Linked DNA regions of Homo sapiens: region 1 is linked to region 2. Evidence: fine-mapped expression QTL. A gene starts in region 2. The other region holds a variant in brackets. All regions are shown on one strand. Distances are between the middles of the regions.

The links. PIP is the estimated chance that this variant, and not a neighbour inherited with it, causes the effect.
Region 1: its variant is the best candidate, but not a certain one, in a credible set for the expression of CDK8 in left ventricle (GTEx, PIP 0.60).

What each region holds. Positions count from the first base shown.
Region 1 is chr13:26,470,694-26,479,037 of GRCh38, reverse strand. No RefSeq gene overlaps it. Among named protein-coding and RNA genes, the nearest start is that of WASF3, 83 kb to the left of the region's middle. RefSeq lists an enhancer at 2,532-2,826. The variant C/T (reference allele first, on the strand shown) is at 3,559.
Region 2 is chr13:26,250,331-26,258,674 of GRCh38, reverse strand. CDK8 (cyclin dependent kinase 8) reads right to left here and starts at 4,546. Exons shown (of 13, transcript NM_001260.3): 1 at 3,906-4,546. The coding sequence starts at 4,033. RefSeq lists a silencer at 3,942-4,541.

The DNA of each region.
Region 1 (8,344 bases), 220 kb before region 2:
ACTTTTGTGACATGAAGCTGAAGTCCACAGCTCAATGGGGACCTGTGATGAGCTCTGGAGACCCATGAAGAGGGAAAAGCAAATTAAAGATTAAAGCCATTATGAGATACTAGTACTCACTCACCAGGATGTCTAAATAAAAATCATGGACAATAAGTGCTGGCAAGGATATGGAGCAATAGGAAGCCTCATAAATTGCTGATGGGAATGTATTAAAATGAGTGGCAAAAAGAGCAATTACTTTTGCGCCAACCTAGTAAGTTGATACAACCACTTTGGAAAACTTGTTGGCATGTTTACCTACAGCCGATTGTATGCATATTCTACGACTTAGCAGTTCCACTCCTATCTTAAGTGCATGCACTGTGCACCAAAAGACATGTGCAAAATTGTTTGGAGATGCACGATTTGTAATTGTCCAAACCTGGAAACCTATTTGTCCATCAAGATTTGAATAAGCCAGTAAAAGGTGGGATATTCTCACAATGGAATACTATTCATCTATGGTTCTCAAAAGTGTGGCATCAGCCAGCCTAGGCAACATGGTGAAACCCCGTCTCTACAAATAATACAAAAATTAGCCTGGAGTGGTGGTACACACCGATAGTCCCAGCTCCTCAGGAGGCTGAGGTGGGAGGATTGTTTGAGTCTGGGAGGTCAAGACTGCAATGAATCATGATTGCACCACTACACTCCAACCTGAGCAACAGAGCGAGACCCTGTCTTAAAAAATAAAGTGCGGGCCAGGCGCAGTGGCTCACTCCTGTCATCCCAGCACTTTGGGAGGCTGAGGCGGGCAGATCACGAGGTCAGGAGATCAAGACCATCCTGGCTAACATAGTGAAACCCCATCGCTACTAAAAATACAAAAAAATTAGCTGGGCATGGTGGCGGGTGCCTGTAGTCCCAGCTACTTGGGAGGCTGAGGCAGGAGAATGGCGTGAACCCAGGAGGCGGAGCGTGCAGTGAGCTGAGATTGTGCTGCTGCACTCCAGCCTGGGCGACAGAGTGAGACTCTATCTCAAATAAATAAATAAATAAATAAATAATAAAGTGCGGCATCAGTATCGCAGGACAATCTGTTAGCATACTCTGGAATTTTATCTCAGACCTCCTGGGTCAGAAACTCTGGGGGTGGGGCCAGCAATCTTGTGTTTTAGCCAGCCCTGCAGGTGACTTTGATGCGGGCTAAAGTTTGAGAACCTGCTGTACAGCAACAAGACTGAAGAAACTACAACTCCAAGCAAAAACATGAATCTCAGCCATAATGTTGAGCAAAAGATGTCAGACCCAAAAAAGTGCATGTTGGAAGATTCCATTTATACGGAGCTCAAAAACAGGCAGAACTGTTTTGTGCTGCTAGAAGTCAGTTATGGGTGAGGCCTGTGAAGCACCTAGAACAAAATGTAAGGGGCTAGACGTGCTTGACCTTGAGAGGGGAGGCCTCCTTACACTGTGCACCCCAGGCTCCTCAACCTTTCCCAACCTTGGTCAGAGTGGTGATTATTCTGGATGGTGTGGGCTAAAGACTTCACACATACTTGAAGGTGAGTGATCCAGGGTAATCCGTGAGGGCATCCAGGCATTACTATTGTTCTGTGTCTCCATCCGGGTGCTGTGTGCACCAGGGTGTTCAGTTCCTAAATATTCTTCAACCTGTACACTTACGGCTGGTGCACTTTTCTATATATAAGTATGGAATAATCTTTCAATAAAAGATTACATATCCAATGGGAATGATGCCCTCATTTCAGGATGAATGGCCTTGGAGTCATTGCTTTCATGCCATCATGGGTCGAGTGTCTGTGTGTGTGTGAGTGTGTGAGTGTGTGTGTGTGAGTGAGTGTGTGAGAGTGTGGGTGAGTGTGTGTGTGAGTGTGTGTGTGTGTTTTAATGGGCTTAGAAAATAGAAAAAAAAATTCAGGGTCAAATCTAGTAGATTATACATAAAAAAATTTTTTCTAAAAAATGACATGGGGTTTCCGATGTAGCTTAAATGGACTCTAAAGGCCTTTGCCAAGAGAAGGGAGTTCCAAGTGTGCTCTGAGTGTGGGAAAAGCTTTGGAATGAGAGTATAACTTCCCAAGGGGCTTCTCTGAGGGGCCCCTCCCTGAAGCCTGTGATTTCTGGCACAGGCACTAACAGATCAGCCAGTGAAGTGTCCCCATCCCGTACCACCTGCATTCTCAGAAAGTGGTGGTTTCTACTTGACTCCGTACTTCTGTTTAACTTCATGCCTTGGTGAGCTCTATGGATGGCTTGTTTTACCTGGTCTTTGAATGCAAAGGGGAATTGTCTCCCCAGGCCGTGCTGCGAGCAGCTGGGCTGGAGTCAGTGACAACACACAGAGGAAGCCAGATCTCGGGAATCCAAAGCATTCTGTGCAGACTCTGAAGGAAACAGGAACAGATAATTCTAGCAACTCCCGCCTGGATGTGGGGATGACTCTGATGGAGGAGAGGGCTGTTGGCCAGAACAAACCCCCGCTGGCTCCTGACACTGGCCCTGGAGCCAGGCAGCGGTTGATTTCTGAATAAAGTTGCCTCCGGAAGCAGAGTGACAAATAGCTCCCTAGCTCTGACTTTGAATAAAAAAGCATGAATGCCGCAGGAAAGCCCTGCAGCTTCCTGTGTGACGGAAGAGGGCTCAGCCCAGCCTGCCCGCTGCCCTCCCTAGGTTCTAACCTACCCTGAGGACAGTCCCCGCCCCTGACCGCCGCCCTGCGGACCCCGCTTCTGACCCTGCCGAGGTCAGCAGGGACGCGGTGACCCAGTGCTCCTGCACAGGAAATACAGTGACCTAACCAGGCCTGGCAGAAGGACCGGTCAATGTGGTGAGCAGCCAATGGAGAATAGCTCTGTCTCTCTCAGCATTACTTCACTGTCTAAACGCCCCTGGAATTCTATTGGATACCTAAGTATTTCAGCAAATGTGCTATCCCACTCTTCCTCTAAAGTCAGCGCCTGCTGTCATTCAGTTCAGCATCCAGGTGCTTACGTGAGGAATCAGCCGTAGTTGCTTTGTCTGCCAGTCTGTCTAGCAGGGACCACCTCCTTCCACCCCCGAAGCCTCAGCCTCACCCAAGCCCTGCCCCCTCCCTGGGGTGTGGCCACAGCCTTGTTCCCATCCTTGCCCCCTTGCCCCATCCCACCTCTCTTCCAGGAGAAGCCAGAGCCCGGCAGACACAGCAGCGGGATCACGGCCTTCCTGAGCCCAGCCCTCCTGAGCCCAGCCCTCCTAAGCCCAGCCCTGCAGCTCCTGAACCCTCTCCATTAACCATGGGTTTCTGATGCTTTGGCCTCTTGAGGCTCTTGAGGCTCTGCTGACCTTAGAGAGGCTGCCTCTCCCCATTTAGCCAGGTCCTAGAGAGAGCAAATGACTGAGTGCAAGCACCTTTCATATGCAAAGCAATTAAGCCAGAGCTCACACCCCGCTACACCACTATGCTCCTGGCCCCTGGCCCCTTGCCCTAATCACCCCAGGGCCAGGTACCAGACAAGTAGGGACTGTCCCATGCCCAGGGCCTGCAGAAATTACTCAGACCAGCCAATCCTAAAC[C/T]TGCTTACCCTGCCTTGCCTGTTCTTTCCCATGAAAATCAGAATCAACGCTCCCGCCCATGTTTCCCTCCACTCCCTCCCCCCCTTGCTTCCCCAGGGGGCCCCTACGGTGTGGAGCGCTCCCAGCTCACTTTTCAATGGCAGTCCGCTCCTGATCTGTTGGCCTTGCCATACCTGAATAATAATAAAACCTACATTCTAAAACATCCTCAGAGGGAAAGCCAAGGTCTTCATGCGGTCTAGGCTCTGCTGCCCACTCCCGGAGCCACTGGTCACATATGGTTATTGAGCATTTGAAATGTGGCTGGTCAAAACCGAGATGTGCTGTGAGTGTCAAATACACACTGGGTTTTGAAGACTTAACACAAAAGAAAGAAGAATGCAAAAAAGCTCATCCATTAGTTTTTATTATCAACTACATGTTGAAATAATAATATTGTAGATACATTGGGTCAAGTAAAACACATTGTTTCCTTGTTTGGGTTTTTTTTTTAGTACAGCTACTAGAAAATTGAAAATGACTCATGTGGCTCCCATTCTATTTTTTTTTTTTTTTTTCACAGAGTCTTGCTCTGTTGCCCAGGCTGGAGTACAATGGTGCGATTTTGGCTCACTGCAACCTCCGCCTCCTGGGTTAAAGCCATTCTCCTGCCTCAGCCTCCTGAGTAGCTTGGACTTCAGGCGCCTACCACCACACCCAGCTAATTTTTTTGTATTTTAGTAAGGATGGGGTTTCACCATGTTGCCCAGGCTGATCTCGAACTCCTGAGCTCAGGCAGTCTGCCCACCTCAGCCTCCCAAAGTGCTGGGATTACCGGCGTGAGCTACCGCGCCCAACCTCCCATTCTTTTTCCACTGGACACTGCTGGTCTAAGCATCCTTCTTGACCCACCCTGCTGCCTTTTTGTCTTCCTCTTCCCTTCTCTGTCTCTCTCACTCCATCTGCCACACGCTGCCTCCTTGCTATGCCTTGCATGCCCAGGCAGCCCGCTGTCTCAGGACCTCTGCCTGTGCCGTTCTCTCCAGCTGGAGTGAGCCTCCGGATTCCTGCAAAGCTGGCTGCCTCCCTTCCCTCTTGTCTTCGCCCTACTGTCACCTCCTCAGTGAAGCCGGCCCTGGCTTACCACTGTAAAGTATCAGCATCACCCAAATTCCTTGCTGTCTCCCTGCTTTATTCTTCGTGCTTAAATGTATCTCTAGCTAATATTTGCTCATTTATCATATGATCGATGTCTCCACCAGCACGAAAGCTCACAAAGGCAGGGATTTTTGCCTCTTTTGTTCTCTGCTGTATCCCCTGTGCCTAGAAAGAACAGTGCTTCACACACAGTCACACTCAATAAATATTTGTTGAATGAATGAATGCAGAATACAGGCTTTTAGCCTCAGGGTGCTCATTTCGAGTAAGAGAAGTCGAATATATGTGACAGATAGAAACAGTGCCAGAGGCATGGGGAAGCAGGTGAGCAGCCTTCAGGGAGTCGGGAACTGGGCCAGTGGGGCAGGCCAGCCGTGCCAGAGAGGCCCTCAGACCCACTCTGACCTGCTGCAGTCAGCAGAGGTAGGAGGAGGGTACAGCAGCTGCAAAAGTGAGAAGAGAGCATTTTCATTTTCTTAAAGCTTCCCAGAAAGTTTGTGGGACTTGCTTACTGAAATCAACCCTTGGTACTGTGGCTTATTTTTATGAGTGGAATTTGACGCAATGATGAAGAATTGGCCTGACTTGCAGGGCAAGTGGCCCAGAGGTTTCCTGTAGAGTCTCAGACTCCATCTCAGAACAATTGATTAAAATTTGCATTTTAACCACATTCCTGACAAATCCTGTGCACATTGCATGCCAAATTGTAGTGTGTGCCATGAACAGATGAACAAAAAGACAAAATGTGGTATATGCATACAATGGAATATTATAGGAAATAATTCCTCCTCCTCCTCCTCCTCCTCCTCCTCCTCCTTCTTCTTCTTCTTCTTCTTCTTCTTCTTCTCCTTCTCCTTCTCCTCCTTCTTCTTCTTCTGCCTTTTTTTTTGTGTATGTGTGTGAGACAGGGCCTTACTTTGTCACCCAGGCTGGAGTGCAGTGGTGAGATCACGGCTCACTGCAATCTCAACTTCCAAGGCTCAGGCGATCCTCCACCTTAGCCTCCTGAGTAGCTGGGAAGGAAATTCTGACACACACTAACCTTGAAGATACTGTGCTAAGTGAAATAACCAGATGCAAAAGACACCTTTTGTTCAATTCCGCTTAGATGATGGAATTAAGTAGGCAAATCCATAGCAACAGAAAGTAGAATGACAGTGGTCAGGAGCTGGAGGGGTTAGGGAGAGTGGAGGATTGCTGTTTCATGGATTCAGAATTTCAGTCTGGAGGACGAAAAGAATTCTGTGGATTGATGATGGTGGTGATGGTTGCACAACAGTGTGAATGTACTTAATGCCACTAAACTGAACACTTAAAAATGGGTAACATAGGAAGATATATATATATACACACACATAGATATATATATATACACACACACATAGATATATATATACATGTGTATATATATACACATAGATATATATACATGTATATATACACATAGATATATACATGTATATATATACACAGAGATATATATACATGTATATATATACACAGAGATATACATATATACATGTATATATATATACATATGCATGTATACATATGTACATAAATATATACATATGCATGTATACATGTGTATATAAATATATACATATGCATGTATACATGTGTATATAAATATATACATATGCATGTATACATGTGTATATAAATATATACATATGCATGTATACATGTGTATATAAATATATACATATGCATGTATACATGTGTATATAAATATATACATATGCATGTATACATGTGTATATAAATATATACGTATAAAAATATATGTGTGTATATATATACTTGTATATATATATATATATATATATTTTTTTTTTTTTTTTTTTTTGAGACAGAGTTTCATTCTTATTGCCCAGGCTGGTGCAATCTCGGCTCACTGCCACCTCCACCTCCTAAGTTGAAGCGATTCTCATGCCTCAGGTTCCCAAGTAGCTGAGTATAGGAATGCGCCACCATGCCCGGCTAATTTTGTATTTTTAGTAGAAACAGGGTTTCACCATGTTGGCCAGGCTGATCTCGAACTCCTGACCTCAGGTGATCGGCCCGCCTCGGCCTCCCAAAGTGCTGGGATTACAGGCGTGAGCCACTGCGCCTAGTCATGTTATGTATATTTTACCATGATAATAAAAAAAAAGTGTGCTCACAAGTTTCCTGTGCTGCGGCCTGAGAATCTGCATTGCTGAACAGGTTTCTGAGTGGTGCTGATGCTACTGGTCCCAGGGCCACTGCGTAGCCGACTCAGGTCAGTACTTCCCACTTCACATCATCGGGACCCAGCATCAGGCCAAGGCCAAACATCGTGTCTTCTGTCCCCCGAAGCTCAATCCTCTTGGTTAATACCAGCTTGGACAATAAACACCAGGAGCTCCTGTGCCCCACCCTCCACTGGGTGAGTGACCTCTCTTCCTTAAAGGCCCCGTTGAGTTAACCTGACTTCAGCAGCACCTCCACCGGAGCATCCACACAGTGATTTCTCACCCACATGCAAGGGAGTATTCCCTGGGTGGAGGTTTGCAGAGCTTACGATATAGAATGCTCATACAGATCAATGAAGAATGAGAAATACCCTAATGGGAAAACGGCTAAGCGTAGTAATAAAGAAGCATTTAATAAAATAAGAAATACAGGCTGGACACAGCGACTTATGCCTGGAATCCCAGCACTTTGGGAGGCCAAGGTGGGAGGATCACTTGAAGCCAAGAGTTTGAGACCAGCCGGGCAACAAAAAGTAAAAAAAAAAAAAGTTAAATAATTTTTTTACTCTACAAATGTAAAAAATTAGCCAGGCATGATGGCACATGTCTGTAGTCCCAGCTACTTGGGAGGCTGAGGCAGGAGGATCACTTGATCCCAGGAGGTCAAGGCTGCAGTAAGCCATGATTGTGCCACTGCATTTCAGCCTGGGCAACAGAGTGAGACCTTGTCTCAAAAAAATGGAAAAGAAAAAAGAAAAAGAAAAGAAAAGAAAGATGGCCAAGAAATGCCAAAAATGAAAACTCTAATTAGTAATCAAACATGGAAGAAAATAATAAGAATGTATTTTTTTCATATAGTGGGTTGGAAAACAAAATAAAAAGAATTGTAACCAGTGCCAACTTCGGTGTGAAGGAAATGATGCCGATTCTCAGATTAAAGGGACCCTAGATCAGTACATTTGTGGAAAAATTTGGTAATATGTATCAAGAGCCTTCAAAAGGTACATACTCTTCATATAATTCCGCTTCCAGCAGTTTGCTCCTAGGAAACAAGGGGCATGCGCACAAACATACATGCATGAGATTATTCACCGCAATGTTGCTTATGGTCGCAAAAAGAATCCTAGCTTCCTAGATAGTTGGTAAAATGTATTATATCTATGTAAAAGAATATTAAACAGCCATTTTAAATGATTCTGTGGATGATCATTCTGTCTTTACTTATTTGGAATAATGTTTAGCATGTTTGAGCTGAAAAAGCAGTTTAAAGAGCCATTTGTTGCCATCTTTATGTCCAGCAGTACCCAGTGTTTAGCCCCCATTTAAAAGTAAAAACATACAGTAGTTGGTGTTCTGTTCCTGGGTTAATTCTCTGAGGGTAATGTCCTCCAACTGCTTCCATGTTGCTGCATAGGACATGATTTCTTTCTTTT
Region 2 (8,344 bases):
ACCCCCCTACTAAGAGCTATAAGGGCAAATGACTTGCCCAAGGTCATACTGCTATCAGAAGCACAGTCTGAATTCAAATTCAGGTTTCCAGGATCGCTCATCTAGAGTTCTTTCCACTAGATGAAGTGCTTCCACATGGCTTTCATTAGAGTTTAGTCCTACACACACACACACACACACACCCCTCTAGATACACAAGTATGTTTGTGTATATACGTACAGACACACCCATATATCTACATAAACAGTTTTATAGCACTTGAAAAAAAGGGTGCTTCAGCAATATACCCAGAAAGTACACCAGTTTATTGAAGCAAATATTAATAGTTCTACAAGGTATTTATGTTTTTGAATAACCCACTAGAAATCAAACTCCATAACTATTTTTTTACTTATTCAATATATTAATTATAGGAAGCATAATGGTTAAGAGCATGGGCTCTGGAGTGAAAAACCTGCGCCTAATCCTCTAATCTTAGCTGACATTTAATTAGCTGTGTACTCATGGGTAAATTTGCTTAACCTTTCTAAGCCTCAGTTTCCTCAACTGGAAAACTGAAAAATAACAGAATTGACTTGATATACTTCTTGTGAGGACTAACTAGATGATGAATGTAAAGTGCTTTGCCCAGGACCTGAAACTTAATTACTCAGTAATTTAGCTATTATTGCCATTATCACTGCCTACTTACTAATCTCTGGGCTCTCAACAAATGTGCCCCAAAGAAAGTTGGCAGTATCTCTCTCTCTCTCACACACACACACACACACACACACACAAACACACACTCATTCCTCACTCATAATTATCTATTCTTTGGAACATAGATTATAACAGATTAAAAACCCTGCTAAGAAAATGCCTTTTGTTTTTCTTTTTTGAAGAAAAACCTCTTATCCCAAATTGATATTTTAAATTATCCAAACATTCAGTGCAAATATTGAAGTCTAGAATTTAAAAACACAAATTGTTTTCTGTCTTCTAACGCTCTCTTACTCTTTAAAACAAAATTAGTTTGGTTGCCTAAACTCTGCAAAGAGGAGATACAATCAACTCAGAAAGAAAATGAACCCCCCTGCTTCCCACTGAGTACTCTTTAAGTGTTCAGACACAAAGGACACTATCTCATTTACGGCGACACGAGTGAGAACAAATTAATCCCAAGATTTATTGTGCATTTCTTTAAACTCTATTATAATGTGAAATTAACAAAGTTATAAAAGGTCCCTTTTCCCTACTATGCAATCATGCCTCAAGTAAGTCAAAGAAATGAATCTTTGAAGCTATTTTATTTCCTAAAACTTAATAATTTAAGCAGCTAACTTCTCTGGTCTAAATTATTTTACCAATTATTCATGTTCTATGCTCACTGGGCAACTGAAAGGATACAACGTTTACATACATTCATTTCAATAGTCAAATATGTCTAAACCAAGCTTATTTGCGTTACTTCCTTTTATAGAAAATCTCAGGTTCTCCTTAAAGGTGTTACTGTCTGAGTTCCTAGAGAACAAATCTCAGCTGCAGAATATATAATGTAATTTGAAAGTAAATCAATACTAGAAACAAATTATTTGATCATCATCTTATTATGAAAGATTAAACAGCCACAAATTTTATTTTACCAGGACTAAAATGCATTAAATTACATTTCACTGACATAAGATCAAAAGAACCTCATAAATACTATGCGATACTTTACCAGAGTGAGGTTACAAAGAGAAGTCAAACCGAAAAAAATCCCTGTAATTTTAAAACTCTCTAAAACTATCTCTAAAAGATAGTAATTTTAAAACTCTCTTGACATTTGATCCATTAAAAATAGAAGTTCATCACATAAAGAGAATCATTAAAGACTGATGGAAAACAAACTCCAAGGATTACAAATAATAAGTTCTTTTTTCCAAAATGCAATGTTACTTTTCAGCTGTCACAGATGACTAAGAATGTCCATACATTATACCTTCAACTATCTTTAAATTCAAAGATATTGAAATTATTCTTTCAAATTATTCTTAACGGCCTAAATTAAAACCTGACCATAGAGATATAAAATGTGCTTAAGTACCCCCTGCCAATACACAGTATTAGTTTTCTAATAAAATGTACAACGTTAAAACAAATATGCATATTTTATTAGCTTAAATTGGTAATTTATGAAAACAGAACCGGCTTCTCTCACACAGATTAAAAATAATGCAAAGGCGCTAGAATTTTATATAACATGTCAGTTTGGTCAAATGTACTGTAATGTCTAATCTCATGGGATTGGGGATTTTATGAATATGCCCAAAATTACATAATACTGGGGGAAGGGGAGATGGTTTAAAGCTTTTGAGAAATATTGTATGGTGAGTTAACAAACATAATTTTAAAAATATATGTCATTACAGAGTAAAACTTCAACAATAAGTCTAATTAGACAACAACAGAGTCAGCAATATCTCCAGACGCTGATTTCTCCAGTGTCACCAGACTATCCATTCCGCTAAAAAGTACTTTTAAATACGTGCGGCGCCCAGAATATCAAGTTTTCAAATCCAAATCCCTACCTTCTGCCGATCTGTTCCACTTTACTGTTGCATAAAAGCACTAAAATACACATTCTAAATTAATTAGAACTCCTATCTTCCTCGTAGAGTCCATTGTAAATACTTTTAGAAAGACATTTCAGTAAATCTAAGAAAAATGTCCAATAAATATACACTTTCCTTTCCAACATCCAGAATACTAAAGTATTTGTAAATATGCGCCCCCCTACCCCACAGTAGGGAACTTCAGCTTTATGAATTTTTTTTTCGTGCTAATGTAGTCTGAACATACTCTCCTACCTAATTGGAAATTTTAAGTGATTAAACATCATACAGCAGGTGACTAAACTGGGATGCTCAAGTAAAGCTACTTCGTTTCTAATAAAATCCAAGGATTATATAATAAGCTTTGACTTTTCAATAATTTTCTATTCTGTCAAAGGCAACAGAGACAACATCCATTTTACAAGAAAACATGGAGTTAATAAAATATATTTTCCCCCCAACTAAGAATTGCCTTCTCTTTTGTCAATATTACAAGACATTCATCTACTGACAAAGAGAAAAAATGAACAATTCACTTGCCTGTTAAGAAACTAAATTGGAAGCATTACCAGTCATAGGTTTAATTAAGTTGTTACTAGGGAAGAATATTTAAAGCAAAGGGATTATTTAAAGTTCACTGCCAGCCGCTAAATTTGGGGGAAACCGCCTGAACGAGATAGTCCCTATGTCACTTGCCTTCTTCCCCACCACCCACCCTGCACCAAACCCCCATTGTTCTATGTAAAAATTCACAGCTAATAATATCTAAATAGCAATTGCAACATTTATGTTGCAGATGATCACTATGGGGAACTCTCTCCAGAACCACATTCACTCGCTGCCTTCCTTTCCTCAAATAAAATACAAATTTGATAAAAAATCGATCACAAACTGGTGGGGGAAAGGATCACAGCCTTCCTTCTAGACCGATGGATGACACTCCAGAGGCGGGTGAGGAAATCCCCAGAAGGTTACCATAATAAATCGACCAAGGAAAAAAAAAAACAAAAAACATTTAACCCGGCGTTTTAGAACGAATTTTTTCATGAATCAGCTTTGAAATCCTTGAAAAGTATACAGCCCACGGTGCAGAGGCTCATCTTGCCTCTTACCACCAGAGCAGAACACAGACGCGGCACGCAGGATTTCTCGTGGGTTTGGATCCCTCGTACACCACTTCCTCCCCAAACCTGGCTGGCGGAGCCAGAGGCCGGCGTCGAGGAAGTCAGAGCCCGGCACCCCGGCGGCCCGCTCTCCCTCCGGGCTACCTGCCTCGGCCTGCGGGAGCGCCGCCCAGCGCGGACACCGGCCCAGACACACACACTCACCCATCTTTCCTCTTGGCTTTGTAGACGTGACCATAAGTGCCTCGGCCAACTTTGCAGCCCTCGTATTCAAACAGGTCCTCGACCCGCTCCCGCTCGCTGCTCAGCTTCACTTTAAAGTCATAGTCCATTGTCACAGCCTCTGAGGCCGGAGAGCTGGGTCGGGGGGCCGGGGGGCAGGGGTGGGGACCGGGGAAGCACGGGCAGCCGCAGCCCCCGGGAACCCGCCCGCTCTACGCCCGCCGGCCGCAGCACCAGCCCGACTGATGCGGCAAGAGCAGGAGGAGGCCCCGCGAAAGCGCCAGGGACATCCAGGGGGACGGCGGGGCAGAGGCCGGCCGGGGGTGGAGGAACGGGGAGGATCCCCCGGCGAAGGAGAGCCGAGGGACGAGGGCTGGGGGTGGGGAGCGGTGTCTCTGCCCTTGTCCCCGCGGGCTCCCTGGGCGCCGGCTCCGCCGCTCTCTCCGGCCGCGCGTTCTGCTCCTGCTGCGGCGGGAGCGGCGGGGCGGCCAGGCGGGCTCTCGTCCTCTCACACGCGCACTCACGCCTCACGCTCTCACACACACGCTCACACTCACTCACTCACTCACTCTCCCATACACTCAAACAGAAGGGCAGAGCCGCACAACAGCCGGTACCTCCTCAAAGAGAGGAGGAGGGAGGGCACTCGCGGAACACGGCCGCGGCTGTCGCAAAAACGTCGCGAAGCCTCGGGCTGCCTCCGGGCCACACTCTAGCCCGCTCCCGCGGTGGCTGGCCGCCCCTGCTGGCGCTGGCACCCTGAGGACCGTGTGGAGGGAGCAGGGGAGCCACTGCCCAAAGCTGCCGCCAAATGCACCACGTGGAACCAGCCCCAGCGGTGGCCGGGCCCCAGACTACAATACCCAGAATGCACAGGCCGCCGCCGCTGCCGCCCCTTCTACGACTCCGCCCCACACGGTGGGAATATGGGAGCGTTGCATGATGGGACTCGTAGTCTAGGGTGAAATTCGTTTCAATCATTTGGGGAAAATTTATTTTTATTTTTACAGCGATCTAACTAGAGTCTGATTTCAGCCACAAACTTGATCAAAGAGGTGCACGTGGGAAGGAGAGTCGTTTGCATTAGAAACACATTTTGTGCCACTCTGAACTCCAGATTTTAAAGGCCACTATCATCGATAAAAGCCGGTATGATATTTGTAAACAGCTCGCGGGCCAGCAGTTGGGGTACTCTTGGTGTTCACAATCTGATAAGGGCTGCACAATGATGTCAACATACTGACATTACAAGCACCAATAAAAGTGAATCAATGACCAGTGTCCAAGCTACTCCTAAACATTGTTACTCTTGTGACAGATGACCATCCAAACCTTTCCTATCCATATACAGGAAGTATTGAGTACAGTACAGCCTTCTGCGATACTACCTATAAGAACACCAGTTTCTAGCTATGATTACAGAAAGGATCTAAATCCATGGGAACTAGTTTGTTAATAATCTTAAGGTAGCAATATGTCCTGCTTCAGGAGTCCTGGTATCTTGATACTAATCTATCATTTTATCTTACCCCCCTTGTCTATTTTTAATTTTTGGTTTTCCAATTGTTACCATTTCCACTAAAGCTCCCCACTTCCCAAAGGGAATATGAACTTTGCAGTTTTAATGTGAACTTTTTAACACTTTTTTTCCCACCTTTCCTGTGATATTTATCAAATTCCTTTCATCTTTTATTTCCTCTACCTTGCTAGATCCTAAGTTGTTATAGGAAGTCATATTTGCATCTTCTGTAAAACCTAGTGTCATGCCTTGATAATGATGCACAGTAAACACTTGTTAAATTAATGAATGAATAAACATGTTTATCTCAAAAAGATCCATATACCAATGATGATGATGATGATATCATCTTGTGAAAAAGCCTCCAAAGGGCTTTCTCTTATATAATTTTCCTTGGAGAAAATTAGTGACTTCACCACTGTGTAAAATTAAATTGTTTTTACCTAGCATACTATATAAGTATTGAGTATTTTACTATACTGGGTTTGAATCCTGCATTGTCATTTACTAATGTGTTCTTGGAGCCTAGAATTTTTTCTTTGCAAAGTGCAAAGCACAAAACAAATGTAGGCTTTCATTAATGGCATATTATTTGTTTCCATTCAGTGATGAAAATTGGGTAACTCTCTAGCAGAACTGCTCATTTGCATCCTTAAAGAATTACATCATTTTCTGAATATGGATTTAAAAGATTCTTCCTTAGACAATGTATTTTGTATTTTTTGAGGGATGTGTCTTTTGTGCACATATTTACTCATGGATCTTGAGAAATCAAACTACCACACTGGAGGAAAAGTTGTGAAGAGGCATGGGACTCAGCTTGCCCCTACACTGTATCGGGTCCCCCTTCCCCACCTCCTGTACCAATTATACACACTATTCTGGAACACTGAAGGTCTCAGACCTTTTTTGTTTGTCTTTTTGTGTTTTTATTTTGAGACAGGGTCTGGCTATGTCACCCAGGCTGGAGTGCAGTGATGCGATCACAGCTTACTACAACCTTGAACTCCTGGGCTCAAACAATTCTCCTCCCCAGCCTCCTGAGTAGCTGGGACTACAGGCATGTGCCACTACACCCAGCTAAGTTTTTTTTTTTTTTTTTTTTTTGAGAGACGGAGTCTCGCTCTGTTGCCCAGGCTGGTCTTTAACTCCTGGGTTCAAGTGATCCTCCTGTCTCAACCTCCCAAAGTGCTGGGATTACAGGCATGAGCCACATACCTGGCCTCAGACTTTTAAAAATGTACTTTTATACACTGTTTTGGCTGGCTTCACTCTGGGTGAAGGTGAACTCTCCCTGAAGGAATTGAGTGTCCTCACTGTCAACTGAGTATCCTGAATGTCAGTCCTGACTGTCAGTCTTTTCCTGGGGGCAGGAAAAGAAGCTAACCTTGGACTAGGGAAGAGCAAGATCTGCTTTTCTCTTTGAAGCCAGGGTGAGAGTTAGAGGCCTAGACACTAGGTTGGAGGAATATGGTGGTAGGAGGTAAGCTGACCCTGTAAAATGGTATCAGGATGGGGAGCTGAGAAAGAGATAGCCACTAAGGGCCCCTTATAGGAGAGCATGGCTAATGCTAGGAACAGCAGCATCTAATATTTAGTTTTAAGTGTCTCCTTTTGTGTGTTCTTAAGGTTCTTAAGGGCTAAGATGCTTCCTCATACCATCTCTGACCTTTACAGTCCTACCCATCCCCCAAGTGCTTAATTTGGTCATGAAGTCTTTCCCAGTTCTTGCAACTAGATATGACCTTTCTTTATCATGAACCTCTACCCCAGCCCTGGCACCATTGCACTTTATTTGTAACTCATTATAGCTACCTTGTATTTTAATCATTTATTTTATGCGATTAAAAAAATCTGCCCCTTAATAAATTTAGTGACTGAGTTCCTGCCTTAATCATCTATATATCCCCTACAGTTCCAAGCACATATTGTTTGCGTAATTATATTTCATTAGAATGTGTTTCATTGGATTGATTTCAATAAATGTTGAAATGGACATTAATAATAATAAAGGTCTCCACCTGTCAGAGGACAGTCATTGTAAAACATTTAGTATCTTGCCTCAGTCTTGCCTCTAAAAAGGGCTTTTTATAGCTGCAAAAGGACTGAGTGCTTCATGATATATTAATGTAAAAGCCCAAGTGGCTCTTCTCATAGTTAATCACTGCAGTCTCTACAACTTTGACTTCCACTTTCTCACTCAGTATTAAGGCATGCTTTCAGTGGAAAGCATGTAACCTCTCATTCTACAGGTGGCACGTTCATCCCGCACATATTAACCATCTACATGTGAGCACAGTGTTCGACACAAGGAAGAACAAGTTAGATTAATCAATCCAAGAGCTTTTTTTTAATATTTCATTTTTTTCACTCTGTCTTTCTGGCCTGATTTTTAAAAAATTTTCAAAGAAACTATAGATGCAAAAAGTATCCTTACTAACTCTGCAAGCATCCAGAATATAATTTAGACCTTAGAAATAACCAGAATATAAAAAATACTTTCAAAAATATCTTACTCTTCTCCCCTTCACCATGTGGGTATCATTTGCCTTTGTGGACTCATTTCCTCCACACAACGGGAAACATGACCACCAATAGTTGCTGAATTTTACGTCAGACAATGGCTTTCATTAGCGAAGAATTGACTGTTTCTCAATTCTGGTTCTAAAAATCCCAAGAAGGGCTCTGGTATGGCTGAGTCAGGCCCGTCCTAGGCCAACTAAGTGTAGCCACAGGGACAGGACCATGCAAGAATATGAGAGCTCCTTTATTAGGGGGCATGAGGGAGATGGGGGTAGGGAGCTCACAGGAGGAAGAATGCCCTAAGTATTATAAAGGAAATAAAACAGGACAATGTGATAGAAAGTGAGACCAGGAGGAAATTCCTTTAGATTGGTAGACG